Regions from separate parts of the Homo sapiens genome. Here region 1 is linked to region 2. A link means that fine-mapping ties the variant in region 2 to the expression of a gene that starts in the linked region. Tissue or cell type: whole blood. Region 2 holds a variant in brackets; the other region holds the start of a gene. All regions are shown on one strand. Distances are between the middles of the regions.

Evidence for each region. PIP is the estimated chance that this variant, and not a neighbour inherited with it, causes the effect.
Region 1: RNF187 starts here. The variant in region 2 is fine-mapped to the expression of RNF187 in whole blood (INTERVAL, PIP above 0.99).

The regions. Positions count from the first base shown.
Region 1 is chr1:228,483,707-228,489,597 of GRCh38, reverse strand. It overlaps RNF187 (ring finger protein 187), which reads right to left and starts at 2,216. Exons shown (of 4, transcript NM_001010858.3): 1 at 1,720-2,216; 2 at 546-638. The coding sequence starts at 2,109. RefSeq lists enhancers at 42-769, 770-1,498, 1,616-2,476, 2,778-3,157, 2,477-3,338 and silencers at 1,578-1,777, 2,038-2,157.
Region 2 is chr1:228,669,260-228,675,150 of GRCh38, reverse strand. It overlaps a transcript of RHOU not described here. Among named protein-coding and RNA genes, the nearest start is that of RHOU, 63 kb to the left of the region's middle. The variant G/A (reference allele first, on the strand shown) is at 2,747.

The DNA of each region.
Region 1 (5,891 bases), 190 kb after region 2:
CAGATGTGTTCTAAAAAAGAAAAAAAAAATAGCACTTTGGGAGGCCAAGGCGGGAGAACCGCTTAAGGTCAGGAGTTTGAGACCAGCCTGGGCAACACAGCAAGACCCCCACCTCTAGAAAAGCATTTTAAAATTAACCAGGTGTGGTAGCACGTGCCTATAGTCCCAGAGGCTGAGGTGGGAGGATCGCCTGAGGCCAGTTCGAGCTGCAGTGAGCTACAATCATGCCATTGCACTTCAGCCTGGGTAATGAAGTGAGACTCTGTCTCTTGGGAAAAAAAAAAGAAGTCTGATGCTGCCATCACCTACAGGTAAAATGTGAGGAGAAAAAGAGGCTTCCACTGGCTTTGGCTAGATTCTATTTGAGAAATACAAACACATCCTAAAAAAAATACCCTGAAGCTCACTTAAGTCCAGAGGCCCCTCCTCCAACCAACCAGCTGAGCAGTTCAGAGGCCTGGCCCACTTGGCCTGGTGGTCCCTTTGTCTAGAGCCCTGAGCCCACAGTCCCCTCATTCCAGGCTGCCCCAGGTCCCCCCACTTGCCTTCCACACTGCAGCTGCTGACTCTGCCTGGCCATGCAGGTCCCGGGCGTCATTCAAGTCCTTTCTCATGATTTCCACAGACCCCTTGTTCTCCTGTAAAGAAAAGAAGGTCACCAGGGGTGGGCAGAAGCTCTGGGTCCCCCAACCCAGCCCAGTACTGAGGGACATCACCCCAGCTGACTGCACACAGTCTGACCATCCCAGAGATAACCTCGAAGCCCGGTTGTCTAGGGCAGGAACGCACAGGCAGTCAAAAGGTTTCTTGGGCTTCACACCTATTCAGAAGGATCTGGGTGCTGGGGCTAAGGGGACTGTCTAGGTGGGTTTAGGAGTTCTGTGTCTGTAAGTGGCCCTGTTCAGTGTGAGTTCGGCCTGTACCAAAGGTCTGCACAGCCTGCCCTACACCCTGCCCTGCCTGAGCCGGATGGGGGTCGCTCTGCCCGGTGGCAGGACCCCCAATGCAGGAGGAGCACCCAGGGACACAGTCTGGCTGGCTTCCCCTCCCCTGTATTGAAGAGCAGGACCCCAGGCTGGCTGTTGTCTCCTATTCTGTGTCCCACAACCAACCCGCCATGGGCAAGGCTCCAGACTCCCGGACCCGCTGCTGCCAGACTCTCAGAGCGGGTTTCTGAAAGATGGGAGAGGGGACAGGGGGTGCAGGCGAGGGCTGGGTGGCCCGGGGAGCAGACGAGAAGGTGGGCCAGGCCTGTGGACACAGTGGAATACAGAGGGGCAAGAGGCGTGATGTCTCCCCCAAGGGAAGAGTGAGTGGAGGAGTCAATCTGTAGGAACTAGAGGGGGTCTATGAGGGCGAGACAGGGCACAGCTAGTGATGGGACCACAAAGATGGGCGCTGGTGGGGGAAGGACTTCGTAGAAGGTAGGGGGTGGGGAGATAAGGCACCGCCCAGCAGGGGACACCAAGACGGGGAAGGGGACCAGACTCCGAAGAGACGCAGGAAATATGGGGAGGCAAGCCGCAGGAGGGAGGGGCCCAGCACACGCTGGAGAGGGGACCCGTGGCGGTGAGGGGAGGGGGACAATCCGGGGACGGGGACAATCCGGGGACAGGAACAGTGGAGACGGGAAGGGCCCAGGGCTCAGGGGGACCGGGGCGGGGGCGGAGAGGCGCAGGGCACCGTCCGGGGTGGGGCACGGGACCCCGCGGCGCGCACCTTGCCGCGCAGCGCCTTCCTCCAGCGCGGTTCCCACTCGGGCGGCTCGGGGCCCGCAGCCATACGGCAGGCGGCGCAGAGCGGGCCGGCGTCGGCGCGGCACAGCAGCTGCAGCGCGGCCTCGCTGGCCGGGCCGTCGCGCGCGGGCGCCGCGGCCGCCTCCTCGAGCGCCAGAAGGCGGCGGCTGAGCGGGGGCCTGCCGGGCTCCACGGCGCGCTGCCAGCAGTCGTCGGCGCACTCGGGGCACGGGAAGGGCCCGTCCTCCTCGGCCCAGAAGCGCACCACGCACGCCCGACAGAAGCGGTGGCCGCAGTCGGCGCGCACCGGTTCCCGGGGCGCGCGCTGGCACAGGGCGCAGGCGGCCTCGGCGGGGCCCGCAGGGAGCGCCAGGGCTGCGGGCGGCGGGGCCGGCAAGGGCGCAGGAGCGGCTGGGGAGGGCCGGAGACCTAGACGGCCGGCGACCGGACGGAGACCAGCAACAGGACGAAGACGCCAACGCCGGGGACGCGCACGGGGCGGGGTCGGGGACGCGCACGGGGCGGGGTCCGGACCGCGGAGCGCTCTGCCGATAAGATCCTGGCAGCGGTGTGCTGCAGCCGGAGGTCCTGGCCGCGCTGCGCTCCACAGACAAGATCCTGGCAGCAGTGTACTGCATCCTTAGGTCCTGGCCGCGGTGGGCTTCTCCGCCTGGATCCTAGCGGCGGTGCGCTCCTCCGCCTTGATTTTGGCAACTATGCTCTCCACCTGCAAGGTCCTGGCAGCGGCGCACGTCACCGCGCAAGTCCTGGCAGCTGCGCGCTTCACTCTACTGCCTGCGGACCGGCCCAAGTCGTATCCTGAAATCTTACTGGGCTGTCCCTTCCTACTTCAGTAACTCCTGCGAAAGAGGGAAACAAAGTTTTATTTTTACTTGAAGGTTCCATTTTTAAAAGGTTGTTTTTGTAAGCTGCTAGGATCTGAGCTGCGCGTACCCCCGCGGTAGCTCGCCCGCGTGGGCTGGGGACGGGGCGGGAAATGGCCTGCGTGGGCCTCCTCCGCTGCTCTCATCCTGCACGGACCCGCCCTGCATGGGCACGCCCTGCGTGCACGGGCCTGCCCGCGTGGACGTGCCCTGCGTGCACCCTTCCTTCAGGGACCCGCCCTTGAACGGCCCTCCGGACGTGGACACTCGTATACGCCCACCCTGCGTGGGATCTCCCTGCGTGGACCCATCCCGCTGAGCCTCTTCTCGCGCAGCCTCCCTCTGGCCCCCTGGGAAGCTACCCTGGTTGTCCGCTGTCTCCTGGCTGGGGGGAGCTCTCATTGATTCTGTGATGATGCATGACAGAAGAGCATTTGTTAGCTTTGCTTTGCTTTTCTTTCTTTTTTGAGACAGCCTCGCTCTGTTGCCAGGCAGGCTTGAGTGCAGTGGCGCGATCTCGGCTCACTGCAACCTCCGCGTCCCGGGTTCAAGCGATTCTCCTGCCTCAGCCCCCCGAGTAGCCGGTATTGCAGGCGCCTGCCACGACGCCCGGCTAATTTTTGTATTTTTAGTACAGACGGGGTTTCACCATGTTGGCCAGGCTGGCCTCGAACTCCTGACCTCGTAATCCACCCGCCTCTGCCTCCCAAAGTGCTGGGATTACAGGCGTGAGCCACTACACCCGGCCGTTAGCTTTTCTTTAAAAAATAAATTTAAAGGAAAGAAATAAGCCTTTGGGAAGAGCAATCTTGTGTTTTTGTTTTTTAATTATTTTGAAAACAAGCAAGCATGGTTAAAATAAGATTGTGCAAGTTTTGCATTTTAAAAAATTAATCTGGGCCGGGCGCCGTGGCTCACGTCTCTAATCCCAGCACTTTGCGAGGCCGAGGCGAGCGGATCACAAGGTCAAGATATGAGACCATCCTGGCTCATGGTGAAACCCCGTCTCTACTAAAAATACACAAATTAGCCGGGCGTGGTGGCGCATGCCTGTAATCCCAGCTACTCAGGAGGCTGAGGCAGGAGAATCACTTGAACCAGGGAGTCGGAGGTTGCGGTGAGCCAAGATCGTGCCACTGCACTCTAGCCTGGCGACAGAGCGAGACTCTGTCTTAAAAAACAAAAACAAAAAAAAATTTTTATAAATCTGTATTCCAAGCAAGCGCAGGATCTAATGAGGTATTTTTGTCTTTGTGAAGATTTTTTAAATCGACTTGGAAATGCACTAGATGCCCGTGGGAAACATGAATAGTAAACCGAGGTTATTTCTGTGTAGTAAAGATTAGAGGCTTCCAGCCGAGCCTTGCTGATATTGTTGAGTCAACTAGGAACTTGCTGGAGAGAAAAGTAAAAAATATAAAAAATGAGCAAACTTCATAATGAACTAATCTTGTGAATGAGAAAATATCAAAAATTATAATTAAAGGCAAATAGCCAAATTAGGAACATTGTAACCACAAATATACAAAGAGTTTATAAAATTAGGTAAGGAAAAGCATGATGGAAAATACACCTTGTCATGGGATTTTTCAAATCACAAAAAAAAAAGCACACAAATGATTGAACACACATGAGAAAAAAATGTACACTCTGCCCAGTTAAGAAAGAGGAAAATAAAACGAGACTCTCTTTCTTTCCACTATTAAGTAAGCAGACCAAACAAAAAAAAGGAAACTTGGCCGGGAGCCGTGGCTCAGGCCTGTAAACACAGCACTTTGGGAGGCCGAGGCGGGTGAATCATCTGAGGTCAGGAGTTCAAGACCAGCCTGGCCAACATAGTGAAACCCTATCTCTACTAAAAATACAAAAATTAGGCTGGATGTGGTGGCACACGCCTGTAATCCCAGCACTTTGGGAGGCTGAGGCAGGTGGATCACAAGATCAAGAGATCGAGACCATCCTGGCCAACATGGTGAAACCCCGTCTCTACTAAAAATACAAAAATTAGTTGGGCATGGTGGTGCACGCCTGTGGTCCCAGCTACTTGAGAGGCTGAGGCAGGAGAATAGCTGGAACCGGGAGACGAAGGTTGCAGTGAGCCGAGATCATGCCACTACACTCCAACCTGGCGACAGAGCAAGACTCCCTCAGTTTCAAAAAAAAAAAAAAAATACAAAAATTAGCCAGGCATGGTGGCACGTGCCTGTAATCCCAGCTATTTGGGTGGCTGAGGCAGGAGAATCGCTTGAACCTGGGCGGTGGAGGTTGCAGTGAGCCGAGATCACACCACTGCACTCCAGCCTGGGCAACAGAGTGAAACTCCATTTCAAAAAAACAAAAAACAGAAAACAAACAAACAAAAAAAACACTTGATTCTGTGAATACTGCTTCTTGTAATCCACGTAGCAGTATCGATTAAGGATTTTCTGATTGGAATTCCTTTTCTTAGAAAACAAACTATAAAAATAACAGGAAATGAAAATAATAAAAATTGGGTTGTAAAAAATTGGGCTGTTTTGTTTTGTTTAGAAATGTGGCTGGGAGAGGTGGCTCATGCCTGTTAATCCCAGCACTTTGGGAGGCTGAGGTGAGTGGATAGCTTGAGCCCAGTAGTTCAACACCAGCCTGGGGAACATGGCAAGAACCTGTCTGTACAGAAAATTTTTAAAATTTAGCTGGGCGTGGTGGCACGCACCTGTGGACCCAACTACTTGGGAGGCTGAGGTGGGAGGATCACCCGAGCACAGGAGATTGAGCCTGTAGTGAGCCGTGATCATGCCACTGCACTCCAGCCTGGGAAATGAGAGAATTTTTTAAGACCTTGTCTTAAAAAAAAGAAAGAGAGAGAGAGAGAGAGAGAGAGGTGGGGGCGGGGGGTGGGGGAGAGAAGGAAGGAGTGGAGGGAGAGAGGAAGGAAGGAAGAAAGGGAAAAGAAAAAGAAGAAAGGAAGGAAAGAAAGAAAAGGAAGGAAGGAAGGAGAAAAAGAAGGAAGGAAAGAAAGAGAGAAAGGAAGGGAGGGAGGGAGGAAGGGAGAGGAAGAAAGAGAAGAAAGAAAGAGAAATGTATGTCATATCACTATTCATTTTGGAGAAAAAAAAAAAAACCTTGAAGGTCCAATACTAGGGGCATGGCTTAGCAAATGGTAGCAGCCATGAACTTGCACATGTGTGCATTAGAGACTTTTGGAAGTATACACTGGCAAAGATTGTTGCCTGAAAGCCTCTCTCCCTTACCACCAGCAGAATCCACATTGTGTGGTGCCAGCATCCCC
Region 2 (5,891 bases):
AATAAGGAGGAAAATGAAACTTGAACCCTACTTAAATCACATGCAAGCATATCAATCCTTGTGAACTGCAGATCTAAGTTTGAAAAGTAAAACAATAAAGGTTCTTAGAATATAATATAGGAGGCCAGGCACGGTGGCTCACGCCTGTAATCCCAGCACTTTGGGAGGCCAAGACGGGCGGATCACGAGGTCAGGAGATTGAGACCATCCTGGCTAACACGGTGAAATCCCGTCTTTACTAAAATACAAAAAATTAGCCGGGCATGGTGGCAGGCGCCTGTAGTCCCAGCTACTTGGGAGGCTGAGACAGGAGAACGGCGTGAACCCGAGAGGCGGAGCTTGCAGTGAGCCGAGGTCGCGCCACTGCACTCCAGCCTGGGCGACAGAGCGAGACTCTGTCTTAAAAATAAAAAAAAATTTAAAAAAAAGAATATAATATACAAGTATACAGTCATGACCTTGTGGTAGGAAATCATTTATTAGCGGGTACAAAAGGTACTAAACAGCTGGGGTGCGGTGGCTCATGCCTGTAATCCCAGCACTTTGGGGGGCCGAGGGAAGCAGATCACTGGAGGTCAGGAGTTTGAGACCAGCCTGGACAACATGGTGAAACTCCGTTTCTACTAAAAAGCAAAAATTAGCTGGGTGTGGTGGCAGGCACCTGTAATCCCAGCTACTCAGGAGGCTGAGGCTGGAGAATCGCTTGAACCTGGGAGGCAGAGGTTGCAGTGAGCCGAAATTGCACCACTGCGCTCCAGCCTGGGTGACAATAGTGAAACTCCCTCTCAAAAAAAAAAAAAAAAAGGTACTAAACACTAAGGAAAAGATGTGTATATTAGACTAAATTAAAATCAGGAACCTCAAACGATTGCATTAAGAGAACTAAATGACAAGAGAATGTGTTTGCAGTATATATTTGACAAAGGAAGACTTAATAAGAAAAGACAAATAGAAAAATGGCCAAGATATATAACTTCACAAAAGAGGATATTCAAATGGCCAATGCATGCATGAAAAGGAACTCAATATCAATTGTTATCAAATTAATGCAAGTTAAAACCACAACACTTCCACTATAGTTCCACCAGAGTAACTAAAATGCAAAAGCCAGTGTTGGCAAGAATGCGGAAAAACTAAAACTGTCATGATGGGAAGCGTAAATTGGTACAATCACTTTTGACAAATTCTTTGGAAGGATCTACTAAAGTAGAGCATGCACATTTCCTATGACCCAGCAACTGTAGCACTAGATACGCTCAATAGAAATGTATTCACATGTGCTCCAAAAGACATATGCTATTTAGAATAACCTAAAGCTGTAAACACCCTGTATTAGTCTGTTCTTGCACTGCTATAAAGAACTACCTGAGACTAGGTAATTTATAAAGAAAATAAGTCTATTTGGCTCACAATTGTGCATGCTATACAGGAAGCATGACTGAGAAGGCCTCAGGAAACTTACATTATGGCGGAAGGTGAAAAGGAAGGAGGCATGTCTTACATGCCCAGAGCAGGAGGAAGAGAGTGAAGGGGAAGGTGCTACACACTTTTAAACAACCAGCTCTCTTGAAAACTCTCTCATGATCACAAGAACAGCAGGGAGGAAATCCGTCCCCATGAGCCAATCACTTCCCACCAGGTCCCTCCTCCGATACTGGGGATTACAATTTAACATGAGATTTGAGCAGGGACACCAATTCAAACCATATCACACCCCTAATGTCCCTCATAGTGGATGGATAAATTAATTGGGGTATATTCAAGCAGCTATGAAAATAAACCAACTTACAACTGCAAAAACATGAATGAATCTCACCAAAATAATGTTGAGCTAAAGAAAACTATCACAAAGAATGCATGCTGTGATTCCATTTTACAAAGATCAAGAACAAGCAAAACTAATGTGTGGTTTAAGGAGTTAGATTAGTGGTGTCCCGTGAAGAAAAGATTAGGAAAAGTGATCAGATGGGGCTTCTGGGATACTAAGAATGTTCTATTTCTTGATCTGAGTGATGAGTACAAGTGTGTATGTTTGCCAGTTTGCCAGGTTCTATGCTTAAAACATTTGCATTTGGGGCACGTATATTTCAATATGAATTTTTTTAATCAAGTAAAAATAAAATTGGAAGTTGAGACTACCCTAGCCATTTAGGGTTACTTGTGCCACTAGACAAGAAGTAAAGAATAAGCTGTGGCAGTTCATCCCAATTACAGGTGGAAATCGGGCTGCTGCTACCTGCAGGGAGTAAGAAGTAATCTGCCTGAAACCCAGCCAATTCATTGACTTTGTCTCAGTACTCTCTTGCTGGGTAATACTAGGCAGTGGGAAACCGTAGTAACACAGTAAGACAAAACCACTGAAAAAGGCTTGGATGCTATGGCAACGCAAGTTTGGATCATACCCCCGGAGAAAAACTCAAACTTCCTGAGGTGATGGCAAAGGTGATTTATGAAAATAGTGTATCCAGGTAGTTTAAACTAATTTCTCCACTCCCCACTACTGCAGTATTAAACTTGGGCATGTGCATCATCATCTTTGAGGGAATACATCTCATTCTCACATTTTTATCAGTAGTTTTTGACTTAACTGGAAAGATCAAGCTGACCCACCTAAATTCCGACTTCAAATTTAAGTTACAAAGGTTTAACTTTGTGCTATTAAAATTTTCTTTTAAAATATGAAAATGCGGCTGGGCACAGTGGCTCGTGCCTGTAATCCCAGCACTTTGGGAGGCCGAAGCAGGTG[G/A]ACCATCTGAGGTCAGAAGTTCGAGACCAGCCTGGCAAACATGTTGAAACAACAATTCTACTAAAAATACAAAAAATCAGCTGTGTCTGGTGGCGGGCACCTGTAATCCCAGCTACTCCAGAGGTGGGAGAATTGCTTGAACCCGGGAGGCAGAGGTTGCAGTGAGCTGAGGTTGCACCATTGCACTCCAGCCTGGGCAACAAGAGCAAAACTCCATCTCAAAAACATGTATGTGTGTATATATATGAAAATGCAATTATATCAAAATGAAGGCCCTAGATTTTTTGCTCTGTTTTCTAGAAGAATGTTTGGCATATATGTAAGCACAATCATTTCCATTCACTTAAGTTTCAGGAACTCTTTTGATTTGTGTGCATGTGCACCAGTGTGCACACTTACATAAACATGGCTGACTCCTACATGATAGTTTTCTCTTTGGTGTATACATTTATTCAAAAGAATGTACAAGAACAGAACTCAGTTATATAACTAGATAAATGTATAATCACAAGATCTATATTATTTTGAAAAATGGCAATAAATTCATATAAAGTCACTAAGACTATACCTGGTACAAATATGGATTTGATGACCACTTAGTGTCCACTGGTTAGAAATCACGGTGTTAAAGTTGAAAATATTTCCATCAATCCTTTTCACTTAGTTCTCTTTTTTTTTTTTTTTTTTTTTTTGAGATGGAGTCTTGCTCTGTCACCCAGGCTGGAGTGCAGTGGCCCTCAGCTCACTGCAACCTCCGCCTCCTAGGTTCAAGTGATTCTCCTGCCTCAGCCTCATGAGTAGCTGGGATTTCAGGCACCCACCACCATGCTGGGCTAATTTTTGTACTTTTAGTAGAGACGGGGTTTCACCACATTGGCCAGGCTGATCTCAAACTCCTGACCTAACGTAATCCACTTGCCTCGGCCTCCCAAAGTGCTTGGATTACAGGCATGACCCACCACCCCCGGCCGATTGTCATATTTTTAAATTCACATTTTCCATATTTAAAAATAATAAAAATTACCACCTTATTTCTTAAGAAATAGACCATAAGACATCTGTATTAGTCTGTTTTCACATTGCTATAAAGAATTACTTGAGGCTAGGCATGGTGGCTCACACCTGTAATCCTAGAACTTTGGGAGGTCAAGGCGAGTGGATCACCTGAGGTCAGGAGTTTGAGACCAGCCTTGCCAACATGGCGAAAACCTGTCTCTACTAAAAATACAAAAATTAGCTGGGCATGATGATGCATGCCTGTAATCCCAGCTACTCAGGAGGCTGAGGAAGGAGAATCACTTGAACCCGGGAGGTGGAGGTTGCAGTGAGCCAAGATCACGCCACTGCACTCCAGCCTGCACAACAGGAGTGAGACTACATCTGAAAAAACAACAACAACAACTTAAGACTGGGTAATTTATGAAGAAAAGAGGTTTAATCAACTCACAGTTCTGTAGGCTGTACAGGAGACATGGCTAGGGAGGCCTCAGGAAACTTACAATCATGGCAGAAGGTGAAGAGGAAGCAAGCATTTCTTCCCACAGTGGAGCAACAGACAGAGAGTAAAGGGGGCAGTACCACACACTTTTTAAACCACCAGAGCTTGTGAGAACTCACTCACTATCATGAGAACGGCAAGGGAGAAGTCCGCCCCCATGATCCAGTCACCTCCCACCAGGCCTCTGCTCCAACACTGAGAATCACAACTCGACATGAGATTTGAGTGGGGACACAGACCCAAACAATATCAACATCTATGCTGGGAATGAGGAAGTAGGAAGATCTCATCCAAGTAAGTCATCATAGAACGTTCCAGAAGAATGTAGAACTGGTCTGTTAAGTGGCTACTCTTCTTATGCTTTTTAGGTTGGCTTTTCCTAACACTTGACCCATCCTAAAGGAGAGACCTTGAGAGGTAAGAGATGGTGTTCACTCTTCAGTTTTATTTTCCATTGGGACATTCTCATCATTTGTTGGAAGGACTGATTTACATTTTGCTGAATTCCTCCAGTTGATGTTTCTGTTCTCCTTAATTATTAGTGCTCTGGGCAACTGCCCAGCTAGCGAAGAGGCCCCTAATCTAGCTCTGCTGAGGAAAGGGGGTGGCCTTAATGATTATCTGGGCTGGGCCACATTTTTGACAAGGATCTGTTCTCAGGTTTTAACTGACATTTAAGTTAAAATAAATGGATCTGTTCTCACTTCTTCAGAGAGGTCTTTCCTGACCCCCAACCCCATCTAAATCAGCCCCACAAGATTCTAATTCATCCTCTTTACTGCTCTTACCAGTACTGCCGTTAACTTACCTACTTACTATTCTGCATGAGATTCTTAGTAGCAGCAACTTTATTTATCCCATTGCCAAGAGCAAGGCCAGGCCCACCATAAGGGCTTGATGTTTAACCCACTTGACTGGCTACTGTGTATGAGCCTGGAGGTTTTCAAAAGCAACTAGTTATCTGAACTTCATGTTTATATTCTTGTGGTCGTTCTTTAATCACTATCTCAGCACCCTTATGATTTTCAGTTTGAAGTGCACCAAAGAACAAACTGCATCCTTTAAGCATCACTATGACTTTGAGAGAATTCTGGGCAGAAATGCACTTCACAATGAAGTAGCTAAAATGATATTAATTTTTAGGAAATTATACTCTTCTCCATACTAAACGGTCATGCCATTATTATCAGGTTCAGAAAAAGTACCCGTAAGGTAGACATGACACACCATAGGTCTAAGAATTAGGAGACTACATCTAAGTTAAAATTTTACTCAAGCAAGTTAAGGCCTTTTAGTTCTATTCCAATAACATTTCATAAGTTCTTAACCAGCGACATGGCTTAATAAAAGCTCATGGATTACCTCAGTCCTTCAGTTATAGCCTGCAGAAAAAACATTCTTAGGTTTAGCTGTGCTGGCTCTCAGAAGAAAAAATTAGGAGGTGAGAGCTTTTATTTTCCAAGTTAAACATTCCATCCAAAAAAGCACAGAGGCTGTAATGCAAGAAACATGAACCACCAAGACTGTGTTGCTGGCCCAGGCTCAGCATCACCCAGGCAATGCCTGAGGCCTGGAGGAAGCTGAGAAGTGATGACTAGTGGAGGGAGGAAGCAGCTTGTCCAACTCCTGTGATGAAACCACCAGTAA